Homo sapiens: one gene and its partners. The protein of the gene in region 1 interacts with the protein of each later gene in a pairwise test. Each region holds a gene or a part of one and is shown in the gene's direction. Other genes may lie near its edges. The genes, in order: PLEKHB2, CLDN19, POGZ, TAX1BP1, ZFAND2A, STAM2 and EMP1.

What was found.
Region 2: the proteins of PLEKHB2 (region 1) and CLDN19 interact in binary tests that used the Homo sapiens proteins (3 or more experiments, as listed by UniProt).
Region 3: the proteins of PLEKHB2 (region 1) and POGZ interact in binary tests that used the Homo sapiens proteins (3 or more experiments, as listed by UniProt).
Region 4: the proteins of PLEKHB2 (region 1) and TAX1BP1 interact in binary tests that used the Homo sapiens proteins (3 or more experiments, as listed by UniProt).
Region 5: the proteins of PLEKHB2 (region 1) and ZFAND2A interact in binary tests that used the Homo sapiens proteins (3 or more experiments, as listed by UniProt).
Region 6: the proteins of PLEKHB2 (region 1) and STAM2 interact in binary tests that used the Homo sapiens proteins (3 or more experiments, as listed by UniProt).
Region 7: the proteins of PLEKHB2 (region 1) and EMP1 interact in binary tests that used the Homo sapiens proteins (3 or more experiments, as listed by UniProt).

What each region holds. Positions count from the first base shown.
Region 1 is NC_000002.12:131,129,336-131,132,835, forward strand, and holds part of PLEKHB2 (pleckstrin homology domain-containing family B member 2), read left to right. Parts: intron 1-1,385; coding exon 1,386-1,425; intron 1,426-3,500. UniProt on the Homo sapiens protein: Involved in retrograde transport of recycling endosomes.
Region 2 is NC_000001.11:42,734,915-42,737,236, reverse strand, and holds part of CLDN19 (claudin-19), read left to right. Parts: intron 1-1,206; coding exon 1,207-1,359; coding exon of another isoform or gene 1,360-1,475; exon of another isoform or gene 1,476-2,102; coding exon 2,103-2,151; 3' UTR 2,152-2,322. UniProt on the Homo sapiens protein: Forms paracellular channels: coassembles with CLDN16 into tight junction strands with cation-selective channels through the strands, conveying epithelial permeability in a process known as paracellular tight junction permeability.
Region 3 is NC_000001.11:151,449,495-151,452,994, reverse strand, and holds part of POGZ (pogo transposable element with ZNF domain), read left to right. Parts: intron 1-2,046; exon of another isoform or gene 2,047-2,085; intron 2,086-3,500. UniProt on the Homo sapiens protein: Plays a role in mitotic cell cycle progression and is involved in kinetochore assembly and mitotic sister chromatid cohesion.
Region 4 is NC_000007.14:27,746,662-27,750,161, forward strand, and holds part of TAX1BP1 (tax1-binding protein 1), read left to right. Parts: intron 1-1,856; 5' UTR 1,857-1,863; coding exon 1,864-2,025; intron 2,026-3,500.
Region 5 is NC_000007.14:1,152,407-1,154,801, reverse strand, and holds the end of ZFAND2A (AN1-type zinc finger protein 2A), read left to right. Parts: intron 1-1,560; exon of another isoform or gene 1,561-1,577; coding exon 1,578-1,733; 3' UTR 1,734-1,895; downstream 1,896-2,395.
Region 6 is NC_000002.12:152,116,764-152,120,263, reverse strand, and holds the end of STAM2 (signal transducing adapter molecule 2), read left to right. Parts: 3' UTR 1-3,463; downstream 3,464-3,500.
Region 7 is NC_000012.12:13,203,226-13,206,725, forward strand, and holds part of EMP1 (epithelial membrane protein 1), read left to right. Parts: intron 1-3,500.

The sequences.
Region 1 (3,500 bases):
AAAAAAAAAAAAAAAAAGAAAGCCAGAACACTTGAAAATAAGTGAATGAATCTTTCAACTCAGGGAGATAGTAAAATGAGAATAAAACATAAAAGGAATTGATGAAGATAAGAGGGATAGGGTCAGTAAGAAAAGTAAGGGGTAAAGGAGTGAGGGAGTGCACAAGAGAACACTATTTTGTTTTTTGAGATGGAGTTTCGCTCTTGTTGCCCAGGCTAGAGTGCAATGGTATAATCTCCGCTCATTGCAACCTCTGCCTCCCGGGTTCAAGCACTTCTCCTGCCTCAGCCTCTGGAGTAGCTGAAATTACAGGCATGTGCCACCACGCCCAGCTAATTTTGTGTTTTTAGTAGAAGCTTGGTTTTACCATGTTGGCCAGGCTGGTCTCGAACTCCTGACCTCAGGTGATCACCTACCTTGACCTCCCGAAGTGCTGGGATTACAGGCGTGAGAGACTGCTTTTTGCCTATGAATTAAGAAAGCTCTTGTGATACTTAAGGTTCAGATATCTAGTTTTTTTTGACAATATAGTGTAAAGTTGGTAGGTATAGAGATTGTTAGAATCGTTTTGCAGGGCATTTTGGCAATACCTGCTGAAATAAATTATGTTTTTATCCTTTGATGTGGTATTTTCAGTCTTTGGAATTTGCCCTGTGGAGATGTTTACATAAGAGTGTAAGGGTAATAGGGATGTTAATAGCATTCTTTTCTTCTTTTTTTTTTCTTGAGATAGAGCCCCTCTCTCTCATCCAGGCTAGAGTGCAGTGGTGTGATCTTGGCTCACTACAGCCTCGACCTCCCAGGCGCAAGCTATTCTCCCACCTCAGCCTCCCAAGTAGCTTGGACTGCAGGCATGCGCCACCATGCCCGGCTAATGTTTATATTTTTTGTAGAGCTAGGATTTCACTATGTTGCCCAGGCTGGTCTTGAACTCCTGGGCTCAAGTGATCCCCCTGCCTTGGCCTCCCATAGTGCTGGGATTACAGGTATGAGGCACTACATCCGGTCCCCAGCATTCTTTTTAATGTTGAAAAATTGCTAATCTAAATTTTTTACTCATATCGTGGAATATTATATAGCTGGTAAAAAGGAAGTAGATCTGTGTGTATGCCATGAACTGACAAAGCAAGTGGCAGTACATTTCACATTTATTAAAAAGTAAAGTAAAAAGTATAGTATAGATTATGTTTTAAATATTACATATCTATTATGTATGTAATTTTTAAAAATATATATTCCTAGTGCATGTCTCAAGTGGTTTGGGGCAAAGCCTGAAGACTTGTTTTTTAAACAGATCTTTTCAGGAATTCTGATGCCAGCCCAGGTTTCAGAATCATTGCAATGTTGGATTGCCTTAAATAAAGTACCCTTTTTCTTTTCTCCAGGGCCTGGAAATTTACACTCCAAGATTCTAGGACAAACACAGTAAGTTGCTAATGGCAATCACCAATAATTTTTTTTTTTTTTGACAAGGTGTCACTCTCACTCAGGCTTGAGTGCAGTGGTGCTGTCTCACCTCACTGCAGCCTCTACCTCTCGGGCTCAAGTAGTCCTCCCACCTCAGCCTCCCCTTCCCAGTAGCTGGGACTATAGGCCCATGCTACCACGCCCAGCTTATTTGAAAAAATTTTTTTGTAGAGACGAAGTCTCACTATATTACCCATGCTGGTATCCAACTTCTGGGCTCAAGTGATCCTCCCACTTTCGCCTCCCAAAGTGCTGGGATTACAGGCATGAGCCACCACACCCGGCCACCAGTAATGTTTTCACATGGTCTTGTGTAACAATTGGAGAATGGGGAAAACGGGTTTCTTGACCATCTGGCCACGAATGGGCAGGTAGTGCTGGGCAGGGCGCCTTTTGCCAACAGTGAGCAAGCTGGGTTTGTCAAATGTTTGGCAGGAGGCACCCTGCTCTTACAGGCATGCTTGTTCCAGTGTTGCTTTCTAGAAATGCTTGTATTTCTCAAAGTTCTGCAACACTTTGAATTGTGCTGTGGTTTGCAGTAAAGGCTTAGAAAGAACTGCAGGATCCTTTTCACGCATGGGAGCTCAGCCTGTGAAACAAACATTTTTGTGACTTGTACTTGTCTCTCGTCCTGTTTCTGGCCTTAGGAGGTCACTGAGACAGTGAACCTCATTTGTAGAGCCTCGTAATGCTGTCTTTATCTGTCAGTGATCAAGGGAGTGTGTTACTCTGGTCAGAGTTTTCATTCTTTAGATGGGATTTTTCTCTCCTTTATTAATCTGTAAGAAAAGAAGAAGGTGGATCAAGCTTACAGAAGAATGTGTGCATGTGGGAGAAGAAAGTAAAAGGCTTAATATCCTAATAGCGTCAGTGTTCTCTTCCTTTGTTAGCACACAACAACTTCATTCTAAGCTTACTCTACAGCCGCAGTTACCTTTTCTTCATGAAAATCCCCCTTTTTTTTTTTTTTTTTGGGTAAAATTAGCATTAACAATCCATACAGTTAAGGGCAAGCTCCCCAAATGATTCTTTGTGTGGATTTTTTTTTTTTGAGACAGTCTCACTCTGTCGCCCAGGCCAGAGTGCAGTGGAGCGATCTCGGCTCACTGCAACCTCTGCCTCCTGGGTTCAAGCAGTTCTCCTGCCTCAGAATCCTGAATAGCTGGGATTACAGGCACGTGCCACCACGCCCAGCTAATTTTTGTATTTTTAGTAGAGATGGGGTTTCATCATGTTGGTCAGGCTGGTCTCAACTCCTGACCTAGTGATCTGCCTGCCTTGGCCTCCCAAAATGCTGTGATTAAAGGCATGAGCCATTGCGCCTGGCCACTTTTTCTTTTTTTTTAAAGAGCTAACATGTTTTTCTTTAAATTATACTGGGGAGTAATTTAATGAAGAATTTTGTTTTTTAAGGTAAAAAACAGACTTATGTATAGGACATATCTCTTGATACATTTTAGATTGTAGAGTTTTTATTTGTGAATAAAGGACTGTTGAGAGTGCTGTAACATCTTTATTTTTTTGGAGACAGTCTCGCCTTGTTGCCTGGGCTGGAGTGCAGTGACTTGATCTTGGCTCACTGCAGTCTCGAGCTCCTGGGCTCGAGTGATCCTTGAGACTTAGCCTTCTGAGTAGCTGGGGCCATAAGCACCATGCCCAGTTAATTTCTTGTTTTTTGTAGAGATGAGCTCTCCCTCTGTTGCCTAGGCTGGCCTTGGAACTCCTGGGCTCTAGTGATCCTCTCACCCAGCCTCCCCAAAGTGTTGGGATTATAGGTGTGAGCCATTGCACCTGGCCTGATGTAACATCTTTTAAAAGGCATTGGGTAACAGTGGGGCCTCTGAGTGCCTTCCTGGCTGTGAGAGCTGTAGTCCTGTTAGGGGCCGAGTGAGGACCACTTTGCTCTTGCATTTAGAGGATACCAGAATAGGGGTGGGGGCCCCCACTGGACTGGGGGAGTTTTTCCTGTTTTGCAGAGAGCTATGTATCTTTTTGTTTTTTTAAATTTTTAATTTGCTAAATAAAAGGGACAA
Region 2 (2,322 bases), on another chromosome or scaffold:
GGGAGCAGTGGAAAGCAGGCTGATATTCAGGAGATAACCAGGACTTGTAAGACTGTGGGCATGGGAACTGAAGGGGATGCTCTGCAAAGGGCCTGGGCCCACCTTGGCTCCTCCCTCACTTCTCAGCCTAGCCAGGAGCAGAGAATGGGACAGTCTTAACCCTAGACATCCCAATGGGCTTTGGGCCTTGGGGTGGAGAGAGGATGAGAAAAGATGTCTGGGCTTTTGCAATCGGGAGGGATGCCTGGAGGAGGCAGAGGTGTTGAGAGGCAAGGGGAGGGAGGAGATCTCAGGTACAAGGTTTGTTCCCTGGGTGGTGGCTGCAGCCACAAAGTCTGCCAAGCAAGGTCCAGCTCAGGCATGTCAGGATAGGACTCGGCCCCCGATCCCTTCAACAGTCCCCAATGCCACTTGGGCTGCCAGGCCCTGTGCTGGGTCCTGGGGACACTGATGGCTCTGTCTGCCCTCAAGGGGCTTCCCAGGGAGCCGGACAAGCAAGGGGCTGAGGCCTCCTGGAGAAAGCATGGTAGTGGAGTCGGCGCAAGGGGCGGGGTGAACACAGAGGATGTCAAGGAAAGACCCCACGAAGAGGTGGCATCTGAACTGGGCTCTGAAGGCAGAGAAGGAACAGGGGAGGCACAGGAGTGGTGGGCTGGGGGGCTTGGTGCCCCAGCTGGGGGTGCCTTGTGCAAAGGCACCAAGGCAGTGAGAACCAGGAGCAGGGCTGGCCTGGCCAGCAGGGTCTGGGTGTGGAGAGCCCAGAGTGCCAGGTGGAAGGGTCTGGCCTTCTCCAGAGGGCAGCGGGAGCAGTCTTGGCTGGGAGTTCTGTGGGCCAGAATGTGACTGGGAAAAAACATGGCAGGGATTGCCCCACTCCTCCCGTGCAGACCTCTCAGGCCCTCCCATGCCCCCTCCACTGGCCAGATCAGGAAATGAGCCCAAGGTTGCTCAGAGCAGGAGCTGGAGGCCCAGCCTCTAGCCTTCACGCCTACCCCAGGCCGGGTCACCCTGTGTGGTGTTGATATTCTGGGCTGGGGGGGAGGGAGAAAGGAAGAGCATTCACCTCAATTTATCTGGAGATATGGAAGAGGTTGTGAGGCTCCAGCCTCCAGCTCCACACACTCTGCCCTTCCTCTGCCAGGGCAGGGACTGGGAACAACCTGAGACGGCAGCCACACCTGATGCCACTCTCCCTACCCCTTGCAGGTATGAATTTGGCCCAGCCCTGTTCGTGGGCTGGGCCTCAGCTGGCCTGGCCGTGCTGGGCGGCTCCTTCCTCTGCTGCACATGCCCGGAGCCAGAGAGACCCAACAGCAGCCCACAGCCCTATCGGCCTGGACCCTCTGCTGCTGCCCGAGAGTACGTCTGAGCTCCGCCTGCCCTGGCCAGCCCCCCACCCAGTGGCCCCCTTGCCCAGCATCCAGCCAGCCTCGCAGCACCCTGGGCAGGGCCACTGGGGCATAGGATGGGCATAGGTGCTCTGAGCAGCTTGTCCTCAACACAAGCACCCACCCTGCAATCTGAGACCCAGATCCTCAGAGAGACACCAGAGGCAGGACCCAGCCCCCAGGCATACACACAGATGCAGGTCCAGGCACGGTCTTGTCTGCACAGCCTGGTGGGCACCAGCATGCATCCCTGGAGACAGGCCCTCAGGCACCAGCCCGGCTGTTTACTCACTGAAGAGCTGCTTGGGTGTCTGCTACGTGCTGGGCCCTAGAGATAGAGCAGTGGCCAAGACGTACCTTAGTACCCAGGTCCTTGGGGTGAGCAGAAACCTTCACCCTCCCCAGTCCCATGGGCTCCTCACAGCAACCCCACAAGGGCAGTGCCGGGATGCTGAACGTTCACACAAGGACAGGGAGGGTCTGAGTTTAGGTCTCAGGTTCTTCCAGTGCGCCCAGGGCTGGGGGCCACCTACACAGATGGTGAGGTCGGACCATGGCGCCCCTGCCCCCGGGAATGGGCCCCAGGCAGGGCTGCTGTGAGGGCCAAGGTCTGGCCACGCTGGCCAGTACCCATGTCCGGGCCTGAATGCACAGCCCCTGCCCCCGACCCCACAGCTCACTCCACTAACCAGCTCTCTCTCTTTTGACTTTCAGACCAGTTGTTAAATTGCCCGCCTCCGCCAAGGGCCCCCTGGGTGTGTAATGTCCAGTCCCCAGCCAGGCTCTGTCCCCTGCCATACCTAGACTGTGTGTTTCATATTTTTTTGGAAAGAGAAGTGAACATCCAGCCCCAATCATGGTATCATTCGGTCTGTCCTCAGCGTGGCTTGGACGGGGCCTGTGTCAGAGTGGTCAGTGCTGACCCCTGGGGCTC
Region 3 (3,500 bases), on another chromosome or scaffold:
GCCAAGATCACTCCAGCCTGGGCAACTGAGCGAGACTCCATCACAAAAAGAAGAAAAAAGAAAAGGGTGAAAGAATTCTACAAGGAACACTTAAACTATCCACCACCTAGACAGAGTGACTTTTTTTTTTTAAGACAGAGTCTCGCTCTGTTGCCTAGACTAGAGTGCAGTGGCACAATCTTGGCTCACTGCAACCTCTGCCTCCCGAATTCAAGCGATTATCCTGCCTCAGCCTTCCGAGTAGCTGGGACTGCAGGCACCAGCCACCACGCATGGCTAATTTTTGTATTTTTAGTAGAGACGGGGTTTCACTGTGTTGGCCAGGCTGGTCTCGAACTCCTGTCCTTGTGATCCGCCTGCATTGGCCTCCCAAAGTGCTGGGATTACAGGCGTGAGCCACTGCGCCTGGTGACAGGATGATTTTTAATGTTTTGGCCCATGCCAAATATTTTTTGAAAGTTGGCATACTAGTATCTATAAGAAAATATCAAAATAGCCCACCTGTAGTGACAACTACTTGGGAGGCTGAGGCAGGAGGATCACCTGAGCCCAGGAGGTTGAGGCTGCAATAAGCCGTGATTGTGCCACTGCACTCCAGCCTGGGGGATAGAATGACACCCTGTCTCAAAAAAAAAAGCCAAATATCTATGTATTTGCTTAACCCCTTGAAAGTCACTTTCAAGATATTTCTATTAAATATTTTGTGCATTTCCTAGGAATAAATACATTCTCCTACATGAATATAATATGATTATCCTTTCTGTTTAAAAATTTTTTAGAGGGATCGGTTCTGTTTCCCAGATTGGTCTTGAACTCCTGACCTTAAGCAATCCTACCACCTTGGCCTGCCACCATGCCCGGCCAACATTGACTTTTTTTTTTTTTTTTTTTTTTTTTGAGACGGAGTCTTGCTCTTGTTGCCCAGGCTGGAGTGCAATTGCACCATCTCGGCTCACTGCAACCTCCACCTCCCGGGTTCAAGCAATTCTCCTGTCTCAGCCTCCTGAGTAGCTGGGATTACAGGTGCCCACCACCACGCCCGGCTAATTTTTGTATTTTTAGTAGAGACTGGGTTTCATCATATTGGTCAGGCTGGTCTCGAACTCCTGATCTGAGGTGATCCACCTGCCTTGGCCTCCCAAAGTGCTGGGATTACAGGCGTGAGCCACCGCGTCCAGCCGAACATTGACATTTTTAAAGAGACTTCTATTAGTTTTATAGAATGTTCCATATTCTGCATTTGATTATTTCCTTCTAGAATGTCCCACCTTCTGGATTTATCTCATTATTTCTTTGTGGTGATACTTAATTTGTTCTTTTATTGCTGTATTTCTTGTAAACGCAAAGTTACATTTAAATAATGGATTTGGGCCAGGCGCGGTGCCTCACACCTGTAATCCCAGCACTTTGGGAGACTGAGGCGGGTGGATCACCTGAGGTCAGGAGTTGAAGACCAGCCTGACCAACATGATGAAACCCCATCTCTACTAAAAGTACAAAATGAGCCAGGCATGGTAACGCATGCCTGTAATTACAGCTCCTTGAGAGGCTGAAGCAAGAGAATCGCTTGCACCCAGGAGGTGAAGGTTGCAGTGAGCTGAGATCGCGCCATTGGGCTCCAGCCTGGGCAACAAGAGTGAAACTCCATCTCAAAAAATTTAAAAAAAAATAAAATAAATAAATAATTGATTTGATTCAGGTTAAATATTATTGTCAGTAATACTTCATACATTGTTTTTGGCTTTTCTTGTGTATTTGTTTGCAAAAAAATGCCATAGACAAAACAGCTGATAACTAATGTGAATTATTAGTCAGTAGTTTATTGGTTAATGTTTTTCTTTTTTCTTTCCCTTTGAGGCAGTCTCCTGTCTCAGCCTCCTGAATAGCTGGGATTACAGGCGTGTGCCACCACACCTGGCTAATTTTTGTATTTTTTTTTTTTAGTAGAGACGGGGTTTCACCACATCTCTGGTCATGGTCATGGCCAGGCTGGTTTTGAACTCCTGACCTCAAGTGATCCACCCACCTCGGCCTCCCAAAGTGCTGGGATTACAGGCGTGAGCCACTGCACCGGTCCTGGCTAAGGTTTTTCTATTTAAACATATTACAATCATAACCTTTGGCTTTTGAGATACAGAGCTACTGTAACTTTTAAGTTCAACCATAAATAAGATTTTTGAGGAAGAACATAGAAATAGGTTTCCATTTTGTCACTTTGAGGCATTGCCCTCTGCAAAAATGATTTGAAAGTTGAAGAAGCTAGAAGAGTTTATATGTAGCAAAAGTAACCTGTAGAGGAATTGTAAAGGGGCCACAACAAGAAAAAATTTAGAACTGGGGAGGCTGGGCACGACTGCTCATGCCTGTAAAACCCAGCACTTTGGGAGACCAAGGCAAGCAGATCACTTGAGTCCTGAAGTTCAAGACCAGCCTGGGCAATATGGCAAAACTCTAGCTTTATAGAAAATACAAAAATTAACCAGGCGTGGTAGCACATGCCTGTAGTCCCAGCTACTTGGGAGGCTGAGACGGGAGGATTGCTTGAGCCCAAGAGGTCGAGGCTGCAGTGAGTTGAGATCGCGCCACTGCACTACAGCCCAGGCGACAAAGACCCTGTGACCTAAAAGTTGTCAGATGAATATGAAGATAAAATCAAGTTCCTGGCTGGGTGCTGTGGCTCATACTTGTAATCCCAGCACTTTGGGGAGGCCAAGGCAGGTGGATCACCTGAGGTCAGGAGTTCAAGACCAGCCTGGCCAATATGGTGAAAACCCATCTCTACTAAAAATACAAAAACTAGCCAGCCGTGGTGGTGGGCACCTGTAGTCCCAGCTACTTGGGAGACTGAAACAGGAGAATTACTTGTACCCGGTAGGCGGAGGTTGCAGTGAGCCGAGATCGTGCCTCTGCGCTGCAGCCTGGGTGACAGAGCAAGACTCCGTCTCAAAAAAAAAAAAAAAAAAAAAAAAAATCAAGTTTCACAGGTAGGTGATTATAGGATGAAACAGACTAGATATATATGGATTTTATAAAAAAATTTTTAACATACAAGATATAACCATTTGAATAATTCATAAGAACCTTGTTCTGCTCTCTTGCAGAGTTTTTGAGACGGAGTCTCGCACTGTCTCCCAGGCTGGAGTGCAGTGGTGCAGTCTGCAAGCTGCATCTCCCAGGTTCATGCCATTCTCCTGCCCCAGCCTCCCGAGTAGCTGGGATTACAGGCGGCCGCCACCACGCCTGGCTAATTTTTTGTATTTTTAATAGAGACGGGGTTTCACCGTGTTAGCCAGGATGGTCTTGATCTCCTGACCTCGTGATCCGCCCACCTCGGCCTCCCAAAGTGCTGGGATTACAGGCGTGAGCCACTGTGCCTGGCCTGAGAGGACAAATATTTTTAAAAAGAAATGATAGTTCTTTATGTATAGAATGTGGGATGATTTTTTTTTAATTGCCCTCGTTTTCAGAACATGTATTCAGTTTGATCAGTGATTTTCAGT
Region 4 (3,500 bases), on another chromosome or scaffold:
TGGTAGCAAAGTCCCTTTATTAGTGCAGAGGTAAAGGGGGATTGCTACTGAATATACTCTTTATCTTGGAATGCTTGCAAACCTCAGGTAGGGAGAGGCTGACAACTAGCCTGATACTCTACAGTGGTTTCCAGGTTCATGATTGACAGTCTCTTTTTGGGATATCCATTATATTCAGTAAAGCAGGACTTTGGCCATAACAGAAGCAGAGGGGACACAAGAAGAAAGTTGATATTTTTTAAAGTGCTTATTATTACAAAACTTTAAAAATTTGCCTTAGTATTTCAAACAGGTCAGCAAAAGAAACAGTTGTAAAAGCACACTGTTTTAGATCTTAGCAATAAGCCTTCTTACTAATGGCTAAAATATGAGTAGAGCCTTACTGCTGTGCTTGCTCTGTAGAAACTTCATTGATTTGTGAAGTAAATTAGATTAATTTGGTTAGCAAAAACCTTGCCCCAGTTTTCCCCATTATTACAGAGATGCCTGTTTTAATGACTCAAGCAAGTGCAGTCAGGACAGTCATAGTTTCTTATGTGTATTGTAGAATTAGTGATTGTACGGAGCCTGTGACAAACTCTACAGATTGCTTTTTTGGGTAAATCCTCATTTGTTTCTGTTTTCTCAAAAGTAGAGCACAAAATAGGGAAAACATTTGGATCTTGCAGTTTTTATAATCTGCTTTCACCATTCATCTGCTATCCAGTGCTTGGTGTTTACTAAGCCAGTGAGCGTTCATGAATCTCTAAGAGATTTTCAACAGTGTGTATTTTATTAACACTACACTTTTATTTTTATTTTTAAATATAAGTTTATTTTAATCAGTAAACATGTGGAAAGGGTACGTGAATACTAGAAGTTGAGGTAGGATCATTGATTGGACCTATGATGAAATGATAGGTTTGTTATAGGTGGAGAAGAACAAATAGGCTGAGCCATTTCAAGTAGACCAGCTAAGATTTTACATGGTTTGAGAGATTTGAACAAGCTTGTAACAGAAGCCCAAGAAGACAGGCTGGGTCTGGGATCTGTGGAAATGAGTGAGAGGTAGAAGTTGTTGGATAGTGGTTCTCTTTTCTGGTTGCATACAGGATTGAGATTACTTGGGGCGATGTAGGGGCAGGGCTATGTATATTCGTATACACACCCACAGACACACATGCACACACTCCCAGGCCCCAATCCCAGAAAGTTGTTGTCATCTATTTTTTTTTTTTAAAGGCCCCTAATGATTCTAATGTGTAACCAGGGTTGAGAAATGCTGGTCCAGGGGATTAGAAGGGCAGGAATGTAGGCACAGAGATGTTAGCGTCAGGTTTAGTTATAGGACCCCAAAACCTAGGGAGAGGGGAAGAGATGAATGGGATGGGCTAGGTTAGGGAGGAGAATGATGAAGCCCAAGGGTTCTACATAGGAAGGAAATGTTAATTGACCCATAGCCAGTAAAATACTGACTTTTAACTGTTCTTGTTTCTGTTTCTTAGTGTTTGTTACTAGGAGCCAGCAGGTTTATATTGGCAGCGTGTGCACAAAAACACCTCTGGTTCATTTGCTTTTGATTTAAATAGAAGCAGAGGGCTAGGCTTTCCAGGAGAGTTAATTTTTGGTTTTGGTTTTTTAACTTTTAAATGCCCATATAACTTTCTGAGCCAAATGGGTTTTAGTTATTTTTCCAGTTTGTCTGTATTTTTATATTTAATCAATTTTTAAGAAGTTCCAGTATTTACAAAGTATATATTTTCTTAATTATGACATGCAAATATTCATGAAACTTATATTAAATATTATGTATTTTCTGAAGGCATAAGTTTATTCTTAGTTGGTATAATTTAACTTGTATGAATTACTTGTTTCAGATTCACAATGACATCCTTTCAAGAAGTCCCATTGCAGACTTCCAACTTTGCCCATGTCATCTTTCAAAATGTGGCCAAGAGTTACCTTCCTAATGCACACCTGGAATGTCATTACACCTTAACTCCATATATTCATCCACATCCAAAAGATTGGGTTGGTATATTCAAGGTAAGAAAGCTTTCTGAATATGTTCTCCATGTAAACACTTAAAATTTTCTTTTAAAACAGATTGATAAGTAGCTTTTACTTGCCTTAACTCTGCATTAAGACTCATTTTTGTAAACATCACCATGAAATATTTAACAGTGGGGAGTAGATAAAATGGATGTTGGGAACTCCATTTCACCAGATTTTCCTCTCCCTGATCAGAAAGTTTACCTTCACTTAAGGACTTGTGAAAATTTTTTCAGAATCTTCTTTTCCTATTTTCTCCATTCATTACCTGCAATAAAAAAAGATCTTTTTCTTTGGGTTCTTATATTATTTACCATTTTTTCCAGTCATTTGAAATTAATTTTATACAGCTTGACAGCCATGTTATTATCCCTTCTACTGTCCTGCATGGCTTAAATATTGCTCAGATTGTATTACACAGTTTTAAGAGTATTCTGTTTGTATTACACAGTTTTAAAGTATTCTGTTTAACATGACTGAATAGTAAACTCTTTGATGGCAGGAGTTCTAGTTCTTATATTTTACCAGTGATTTTGTATAATACTTTCTTGAAAATGAAGGTGATCATTACAGTGGTACACCTCACTGTGCAGGACTTTTTCTGGCAATTTTAACTCTTCAAAATGTAGTGGAAAACCAAAACATAAGAATGTCCTCTGAGCAGTCAAAATAATGTCACGAATGTCCAAACAGTAAAACACATTCACTTTTCTCCTGTGTTATTCTGTAGTCTTCCTCAGAATCAGTTTGTTTTATTTTAGTTAAGATTTTTATGGGCTTGAAATTTTGATTGTCTAATCTGTATAAAGTTAAACAACAAGGAAGAAAGAAATGAATAGCTGCTAGAAATTAGGCACATTGAAAGTGTCTAGAAGTAAAAGTCCAGCCTGACGGGAAGGCAGAAAAACATTTGGACAAAACAATTTTGGCATTTAATGACTTAGTTCCTTTCTTTGAATTCCTCATTTCTTGATGTTTCTGAATACAACACAATAGTTATTTACTGTTTACTTTTTGTGTCAGTTTTTTAGGCTTGTCAAATCCCAAAATGGAGAAACATTCATTGTAACAATTTTATGAAATTAGGAGTAGTTTTTAAATTTTATTTCTTATTTTTTGAGACAGGGTCTTATTCTATCACTCAGGCTGGAGTGCAGTGGTGGGATAGTGGCTTACTGCAACCTGACCTCCTGGGCTCAAGTGATCCTTTCCCCGCAGCCTTCCAAATAGCTGGGATTATAGACACAACACCACGCCTGGCTAATTTTTAAAATTTTTTGTAGAGACAGGGTCTCACTATGTTGCCTAGGCTGGTTTTAACTTCCTAGGCTTAAGTGATCCTCCTGTCCCAGCCTCCCAAAGTGCTGGGATTACAGGTGTGAGCCACCGCACCTGGCCTCAGTAGTAGTTTCGATTTTATGGGAGATACTGGTATCAAGTTAAAGATACTGATTGAGAACTGATGTTTT
Region 5 (2,395 bases), on another chromosome or scaffold:
TTAATCCGTTCCTAGTCATGGGTCCTGGTTGGTGGTTACCAACTATCTTAGTATATGATGTTCAATACTTTACAGTTATATTACCATAAACCAAATAACTTTTGGTCTCAAACATAGAGAATAAAATCAGTGTTCCTTAGTCTGCCACACAAAATTCTCTGTGCGGAAGCTTGCTCTGGTCCCCACTTTCTGGCCCTGTCTAGCTCTCCCTGCTGTGGCTGTGCCCTGGGACCCTCAGCCTCTGGAGGTCTCTTAAGCCTCTGAGACATCACAGCTCTCTGGCACACCCGCTTCTTCCACATGACACAGCTTCCCTTGCTGGGGGCTCACCCAGCACTGCCCCAAGGCCCCCACACAGGAATGCCCTCCCGGCTGCTCCTGGCCCGCTGTGCTCCTGTCCTTTTGGTGGGCACGCCCTGTGTTCTGCCTGCATCCCTGCACGGGTCCCTCCTGCATGGTCGCTCAGCATGGCCATGCCTGCCTGCCTTGGCCGGAGGGCCACCCCCGGCTGCTGGAACCCTCCCCACTCTCCTCACTGCCTTCCCCTCTTGGAGTTCTGACTCCTAGGACTTTATATCGCTGCCTACATCCTGGCACCAAAAAAAAAAAAAAAAAAAATGACCGGTGGGTACTGGGACATGATAGATATTCCCTTGATGGGGACAACCTCCACTGTCCCAGGGCTCCTGGAGCCAGTGCCTCTGTGGGGCTTGCCTGTCATCTGTGCTTGGCCTCCTTCCCTCCCGCTCCCTGCTTCCTGGCTGCCTCTCTCTGTTGTCCTCCCAGCAGCACCTCCGGGCCATCTTCACGGGAATCCCCAGCTTCAATGCTGACCGGCTTTTTTTTTTCTTTCTTTTTAAAGGGACGAACTCTTGCTCTGTCGCCCAGGCTGGAGTGCAGTGGCACAATCTCAGCTCACTGCCGCCTCTGCCTCCTCTAGCAATTCTCCTGCCTCAGCCTCCCAAGTAGCTGGGATTACAGGCACCACGCCACCATGCCTGGCTAATCTTTTATATTTTAGTGGAGATGGGGTTTCACCATGTTGCCCAAGCTTGTCTCGAACTCCTGAGCTCAGGCAATCCACCCATCTTGGCTTCCCAAAGTGCTGGGATGACAGGCGTGAGCCACTGGGTCCAGCCCCATGTTCTTCTTACCTGCACTGAGATGGTCAAATGAAACTTTGCATCTGTACTCTGTGCAGACAGGAACTGTGTCCAGTTTAAATGGGAATGTTCTTACCGGAGGCTGTTAAAGAATTTAAGGCCAGCACAGTGGCTCACACAGGTAATCTTAGCACTTTGGGAGGCCAAGGCGGGAGGATCACCTGAGGCTGAGTTTGAGACCAGCCTGGGCAGCATGGCAAGACCCCATCTCTGTGAAAATAGACAAAATTAGCTGGACGTGGCGGTGTGTGCCTGTAGTACCAGGTACTAGGCTGAAGCAGGAGAATCACTTGAGTCCAGGAGGCAGAGGTTGCAGTGAGCCAAGATCAAGCCACTGCACTCCAGCCTGGGCAACAGAGCGAGACCCTGTCTCCAAAAAAAGAATTGCTTGTTGAAGTCACTTTGCTCTCTTAGATTTTTACATACCGTTGCTCAAAAGAGGGCTGCAAGAAGAAAGAGATGCTGCAGATGGTATGTGCCCAATGTCACGGCAACTTCTGTATCCAGCACAGACACCCTTTGGACCACAGCTGCAGACACGGGAGTCGCCCCACCATCAAAGCTGGGTGAGAAGAGACTCCGCTGCGATGGCTCGGAGCACGCAGTAGCATGCGTGGAAGCAGCTTACACTCTAGTGGGAAGTGGAGCCCCATTGAGCACCATCCCACACTGGCTGCTGATCTTGTTTGTTGAGGGAGATGGGACTATAATAAAATTGAATGCTGAAGTTGATTCTAGTTGTTCTCATTGCCCACTGCTGCCGTCACCAAGTACTAAAAACTGGGTGGCTCAAACCATAGAAATCGGTTCTTTCACAGTTCTGGGGGCTGGAGGTCCAGGCGCAGGATGTCGGCAGGGCCAGCCCCTTCTGAGGGCTGCGGGGAGCATCGGCTGCGTCTCCCCAGCATCTCGGGGCTCGTCAATGCACAACCCCCGTCTCCACCTTCATCTTCACATGGCATTCTGTGTGTGTCCCGACTTCCCCTTTTTGTAAGGATGCTGGTCATGTGATCCCACAGTCGTGACCTCTGAAAAGACCCTGTGTCCACAGAAGGTCACACTCTGAGGTCCCGAGTCTAGGGCTCCAGCATGTCTTGTGGGGACATGATTCAACTCGTAATGCTAATGTTTGTCAAATCGAGAAGCATCTGTATTTGCCTCAACTGTTGCACCTGGTGGTGTCTGGCGTCCATCCCTGGGCCAGGCCAGTGGTAGTTGCTTACCTGCAGGAA
Region 6 (3,500 bases), about 21 Mb from region 1:
GAGATACTTATGACAAACTCGCTCTGTCACCCAGGCTGGAGTGCAGTAGCATGATCGACAGAGTGAGTTTGTCAAAAGTATCTCATACTTATAAACAGTATGAGATAGGAGGATTAAAATATTATTTTAAAGAAACCACTGTTTCCCCCTAAAATGTCATAAGAGCACTGAAGAACTTGAAATATTTTTTTCAGAGTTTCTCACACACTTTAAAAGTCTAACTTTTTTGTGTGTAAGCATTTAGCTTGCCAGCATATTTCTTTTTGGCTCCTTAAATTGCGGTTGTGTTTGCAGTATTGTCACTTTTGCTCTCACTGTTATGTTGAATAATAATTAGCATATAATTGTCTACAGAAGCAAGAGCAATCTGGAAGGAACAAAAATGTTTTCTGTGATTAACAGTGAAGACCTTGTAAATGCAGATGTGTGATAAAGCATTTAGTCAGTCCCCCAAACAGTCATGCCAACTGTGAAGGAATGTCCCACAAAACATTTCCATTCCCTGAGGAAAAACATTTTCTTTCCTACATGTATCTCTGGTATTTAGAATTGTCACTAATAACCTTTTCAAGTGATTTTGGCTATTCTCTAATGAAGATATGGTCCATTTGTTTTTCTTCCTGCAATGTGGTGTGCAGAGATGCTGCATATCCTTTTTATGGGATTGCGTGTGAATTTGAACCATGAGACATTCCTAATAATTTGTTGTGAGATATACCAAGCATGGATGATAAGTGTGTTTTTAGTGGTGTGTTGTTTTTTTAAAGAGGTGATTCAAGTACCGTTGCTAAGCTGTCAACATACCAAGCTGTTGAAAAAATTGACCATTTCTTTCAGAAGTAATTCTCAGCCTGTGGAATAATAGCAGGTGAAGACTTCATAGAAGGCGACAGATTGATAGGGAGGCTATTGAAGCAGTTTTTCTGAAGCCTGCATTTTGAGTTAGTTTATAGTGCTAATAGATTCTATATAACTGTGAGAGTTTGGTAGTAAACCAGTAGGGATTGTTTTCTCTCCTAAAAATTTGCACACTACTTCATTGTCTACCAACTTTTTACATATTGGAAAATAGAAATTGCAAATACATACATGTATGGAAACATATTCAGATTGGGAAAAACAATGGACATTAGTTTTTAAAAAGTTACGTGGAAGCAAGATTTCTATATTTGTTTTTTTAAAGGAAGCAGTCATTCTTTCTACTAAATCCATTTCAAGCTAGTTCTCTGAAAATTTTGCCATTTATCTACAGAAATTTGATTATAAATATGTTCCTTTTTCAAAGAAACTTTATTCTAGAACAAAATAGTCTATATGGTACTTGATCTACATTTAAGTGGAAAAATTAGCAGTATTTGAAAGCTCAGTTTATGTCATTGTCTTAACTTCAGATACAAATAACTGAACAGAAAGTTTTAACCTTTAATATCTCATGTTCTGTTTTTTATTCAGTATTTTCCTTTATGTTAATTCAATTATATACTTCTGAATGGCACCTTACTTTTTGGAAACAAATCTTCTGTTATTTACAAAATAATAATTTTTAAAAAACATTTAAAAAAAATCCAAAGCTGCTCTCGATAATAGTCAACATTTGCATATATATGGAATTTCTTACTTTTTTTCTCCCAAACTCTATTTAATAAACTTATTTTAATGTTTGTGTATTTCATGTATAATTGTGATCTCAATTATAAAAGTTTAATTCAGCATGTCTTTGAGCCAATATAATTACTGCACACCCACTAAATTGGGATCAGCCATTATAAATAATGTAGTTTTAGAATAATAAAACATGACACATATATATATATATAAATATATAGTATATATTGGCACATCGGTGAAAGTTTATATGTGCAGAAGTTTTTTTCTTTCTCAAGTTAAAAATTATTTTTTGCCATATGTAATTTTGTGTTGCAGGCTGTCGAGAGATAAAAATGATTTTAAATCTGTGTACTGATGATTCTTTCGGTGTTAAGAAACACAGGGTTGTGTACTTCCCTTTTTATGGGCTTATGGATTCTATTTATATTAAGACCTGTTTATAATTGTTTTCTGCCAAAGGGAATTGTCTAACTTCAGATTTCTACATTGGGTTCATACTTACTGTTTTATATCAGAAATAAAAAAATAGCTTCTGCTTTTTCATATGAAATCTTGGTACATCAGAAAGAATTCCTGAAAATTTATAATAGAATGAATTTTATTAATGCAGAAAAATACCCCAGGGTGTTAAAATATATGAAGTGTGGGATATATTCTTATAGTTTGTAAAATGTAGTCAACCAATACTGTCTTCTAATTTGGTAATTTATTTATAAAATTACTTAAACATTAGGTAATTATATTTGTTAGGATTTGAAATTATTTGTAGTTAAATTGTCATGCTGTTTGAAATAATTGATACTTGTCTACGTAATACATTTTACTGTATGTTTTGAAGATGGTTATAATTTCACTTTCAAAATTTAAAAAATCAATTTTAAATGTTTTAAAAACATATAGCTTAGGGATTTTTTTTAAAAAGGTTTTCTTAGTAAAAACATAAATTTAAAAGCCCCTGAGTTCTAGGAGAGGGCTTATTGAATTGCTATAAGAAAGCTGGAGTTACTTTGATAAGTAATAAATTATAAATAGCACTGATCTATAATGCTTTATTTCTATCGGAAGGTACTTTTTCTTCTTTCATCATCAGTTTTAGCCAGTTAGTAAATGGGAATACTCAGTTTTAGGGATTTGATTTTTGTTTGGTTTAATTTTCTTTCAAAAATTAAAAGTATATTTCTAAAAGTTTTCCCCAGAGGCCAGATACAGTGGCTCATGCCTATAATCCCAGCACTTTGGGAGCCTGAGATAGGAGTATTGCTTGAGGCTAGGAGTTTGAGACCAACCTGGCAACATGGCAAGACCCTATCTCTACAAAAATTTTAAAACTTAGCCAGGTGTGGTAGTGCACCTGTAGTCCCAGCTAGTCAGTAGGCTGAGGTGGGAGTATTGCTTGAGGCTGCAGTGAGGTGTGATCACGCCACTGCACTCCGGCCTGACAGAATGAGATCCTGTCTCAAAAAGAAAATTCCCCAGAAGAAGAATTCTAATTTTATCAAGCTGAATTAAAGTTTGAGAGTCTTTTTTTTAAAATCTTACTGTGTCAAAAGAGGCATTATGTTGCTTGTGTGATATAGTGAATAGTGTCCCTCCAAATTTCATGTACACCTGGAATGTCACAATGTGACTTAACAGTAGCCACCCCTCACCCCCGCCCTTATCTGTGGTGGATACATTTGCAAGATCCCCAGTGGATGCCTGAAACCGCAGATAGTACTGAACCTTATATATACTGTTTGTTTTCCTATGCATACATATCCCTATGATAAAGTTTATGAATTTGGCACTTAACAGCAGAACTAATAAGATGAAAGAGTTGTAACAATATACTCTAATAAAAGTTATTTAAAATGTATGTATTGTTATCTGTAATTTTGCATTTAATATTTTTG
Region 7 (3,500 bases), on another chromosome or scaffold:
CCCTAGTTATTATCTTGGCAACCTCTCCCTTGAAGACATTCTGGCTGCCAGAACACTCGTTTGTCAAAAGCAGAAGGCAACTCACGCTTCCGTCCTCGCCCAGGGAACATCGCCTGATCCCTTGACCAGCTGCAGTCTGGGGGAGTAGGCTGGGCCCCAACTTCACAGCCCAGGTCTGGCCTCAGTCTTTGCAGATGTTGCCCAGATCCACCCCTCCCCTGGACACGAAGGAGGACAAGCGGAAATAAGAGAGAGAGGTTATTCTTCTTGGGAGCATTTGCAAAAACAATATTCATGCCACTTGTTTGCCTTTAGCATAATTGTTGGCCCTCAGGCTCTGCCAGAGAAGCATAAAGCCCATTTCCCCGGCCCGAGCCTCTCATTTTACACAGAGGAAGAGACCAACCAACCAGGAACTGTGTGGCCCCCACTCTGTGCCTGGCACAGGCCTTCAGCCCTCATGCTAATCCTGTGAGGTCTACAGGTCACAGTTCAGACATGGTGGAGCCAGGATTGGAGCTGAGAATCCCTGCTCTGTGCTACTTTGAACTCTGTGCCTGTAGGAGCCACTGACCAGAGAGGTTATGTGATTTTTCTAAAGTCAGAAGTTGGTCAGGGGCAGATTTATTATAAGAATCTGGTTCTCCAATAGGTTCTCTCTCTCTCATACAGTGTGCTTGCCCCACTCCCAACCCACACCTTGGCTCCTCACCCCTGACTATGTGAGACTCTGTGCTAGTCTACACAGCACCAGACCAACACGACTTGCTGTATAATAACCCCCATTTATAATAGCCTGCATTTGGAAGATGAAAAAAATAATTGTTTTCCCTGCAGCATGTAGGTCCCTGTTACTTTTGCTGCTTGATTGACGATGTTTCTCCTGGTTGTAAAAACTGCCCTGTATTTTCCAACATCAAGTCCTACCTGAGGTTCCTTCCTTCCACACCAAACATGAGCTATGCAGAGGCCGGAGGAAATGGCCCCTGAGAATCCTTTTTCTCCCCATGTTTCCCACGGAGAAATTAATCCCCTGCTTTCCCACCCCTGCATAAACACAATATTGAGAATGGAAAAGTACACTTGATATAAAACAACAATAACAGTGGCCAGAGAGGCTCATCCAAGGTCTCATCCACTCAGCCTGCCTTTAATCCCAGTCTTTTCCTCCTCCAGACACATCCTCTCCGGCTGCCCCCAGAAGGGAGTGCTTCCTTTTCTGCTTTTGTGTTACATGCGCATCCATTTTGCCAACCAAATGATCCTTCATGGGAAACAAACACATCAAAACCAAACCAACAAAAGCAAAATGCTCCCGACTTGCGCAGAGGACAGAAAGGCTTTCGTGCCACCCTGCGTGGTGTCTTAGGAAGGAGAGGCAGCTGCGGAGTTTCAGGTGTCACGCTGAGGAAGGTGGTGTGGGGTCGTCTGACTCATGGGGGTCAGTTGACCAGAAGCGGCTACGCCTCTCTCTCTCCTCGTGCTTTGGAGGAAGCACCACGTCTTTGGTCAGATGCTGTGAGAAAGCTTTCTCCAAAGTTTACAGTTATCCAGAAAGAGATCAGAATCTCACTGTCAGAAAAACACTGGCCAGCAAAAAGACAGGGAGTGTCTAGCAGTAATCTCAGGACTGTGTTATGACTTGACTGAGATTTTGAGATCTAAGGTGAAGGCCTCTGGTGAATCTTCTGATAACCTGGTAGTTCTGCTGTGAAGACAACCATGCTAGAAAGAGGAAGAATTAGTCTAGTCAGGTAATCTCACCGGCAGAATTAAAAGTCATGGTGGTCGTTGCAAAGAGCACACTCGGACGTATTGTCAGAAAAATCTTTCTAATCGGGGAAGGGATCCTGGTAGGTAGTGAGCTCTCCATGACTGGAGGAGGTTAAGCATGATTCAGATAGTTCTTTGGTCAGATTTGTAGATGACTTTCTTGAATTGAAAAGGAATTTTAAAGACCTCCCTCTTCAGTCCTGAGATTCTATAATTCAAAGAAGTAGAGAGAAAGATTAAATCTGCAGACAAACTAGTGTTTAGAAATTTAAGACATTTTCTTTGCATTCACTTATTTCCTCTTGAACAAAAGGCAACACACACATATATACCCTTGTATATTCAAATGCACTCAGGAAACAGTCACATATTTACATAGGTATTTATATAGAAATATATAACAAAGTTTGCATACAATAAGATGCTCAATACATAGTTGTAGTAAAGTATTAAGCAATTTCTGAAAAATAATAAAGGACTAAAGTCTATGTATGTTAAAAAAAAAAGGAAATATTTTCCCTCTATAATTCTGTGTTTATTATGAAGTCTTCAGTCATTTTGACATTGATTATTTTTCCATGGGGAAGAAAATATGGCCATCCTTAATTCATTTATTTGTTCATTGAACAGATATTTATTTGGTACCTGTCACAGGCAAGACTCTCCCTTCAGGGACTTAAAATCTTAGGGCTGTCATCAGTGGTTTTAATAAAAAGCTATGTGAGGGCAATAGAAGAAGAGAGAAAAGAAAACTGCTCCTAACCTATGGATCTGGGAAGGCTTTTTAGAAGAGGTAGGATTTTAGCTTGGTTGAAAAGAATTTGATAGACTGTCACTGAAAGAAGAATACAAAAGCAGAGCTTTTATTTTTGGAAATCCAAGTCCTGGGATTGCAAGGGCTGGCTTGAGGTGCGTGGAGCCTCTTTCCTGCTGATTGGTGGTGGTTAGAGGTGGGGGTTTGGAGGTTCTTGAGCAGGGGAGTGCCATGGTCAGATAACCCAGTAGCAGGGTAGAAGATATGTTAGAGGGGAGTTGTTCAGAGACAGGGTCATGGGTGAGGCTGATGCCATGGTCAGGCTAGGACCTGAACTGGACAGTAGCAATGGGAATAGAACATAAGGAAGGATGTGAGATAAGTAATGGAGGTAGAAACTCAGGGTAGGACTGTGATGTTTTGGGCAACAAAAGTGGAATGAGGGGAAGGGAAGATAGGACATTTGGCAGTGGTCATTACTGCTCTTTTCTCCCCAGAAAAATCCTGGCCTTTCTTAAGCTGCCAGGGAAATGCCAGCCAGATCCATACCCTGCTTCTCAGAAAGCTCTCTCGTGCCCTTTTGTAGAGAAGGTCTCCATGATGCCTTTCATTCTGGGAGAATCTCACCCACTCTCAAATGAATCATGGAAATTTGAGCCCTGAGGGCCTCCCCCAGTGTTTGCATCGTCTTCAGCTCCTGATTTCTGAGCATGCTCCCCTCCCACCCCTCAGCTAGGGCTAATTCTTCAGTGACTCAAGCCCCAGGATTTTGACCACTTCCTTCACTGGGGAAGTGGGTTTTTGGTTGCTCTATTCTATTGTGTTGCTCCCAGTTATTGTGTTTTAGGTCACTCTTAAAGAATTGCTGCTGCCGCCAGGCCCCATGGCAGTTCAGTGAACACACAGACTTCTGGACAGGAAGAAGTTATCTGACTCCTAGGTTAGCAATCAGGGAACCAAATTATGCACCTCT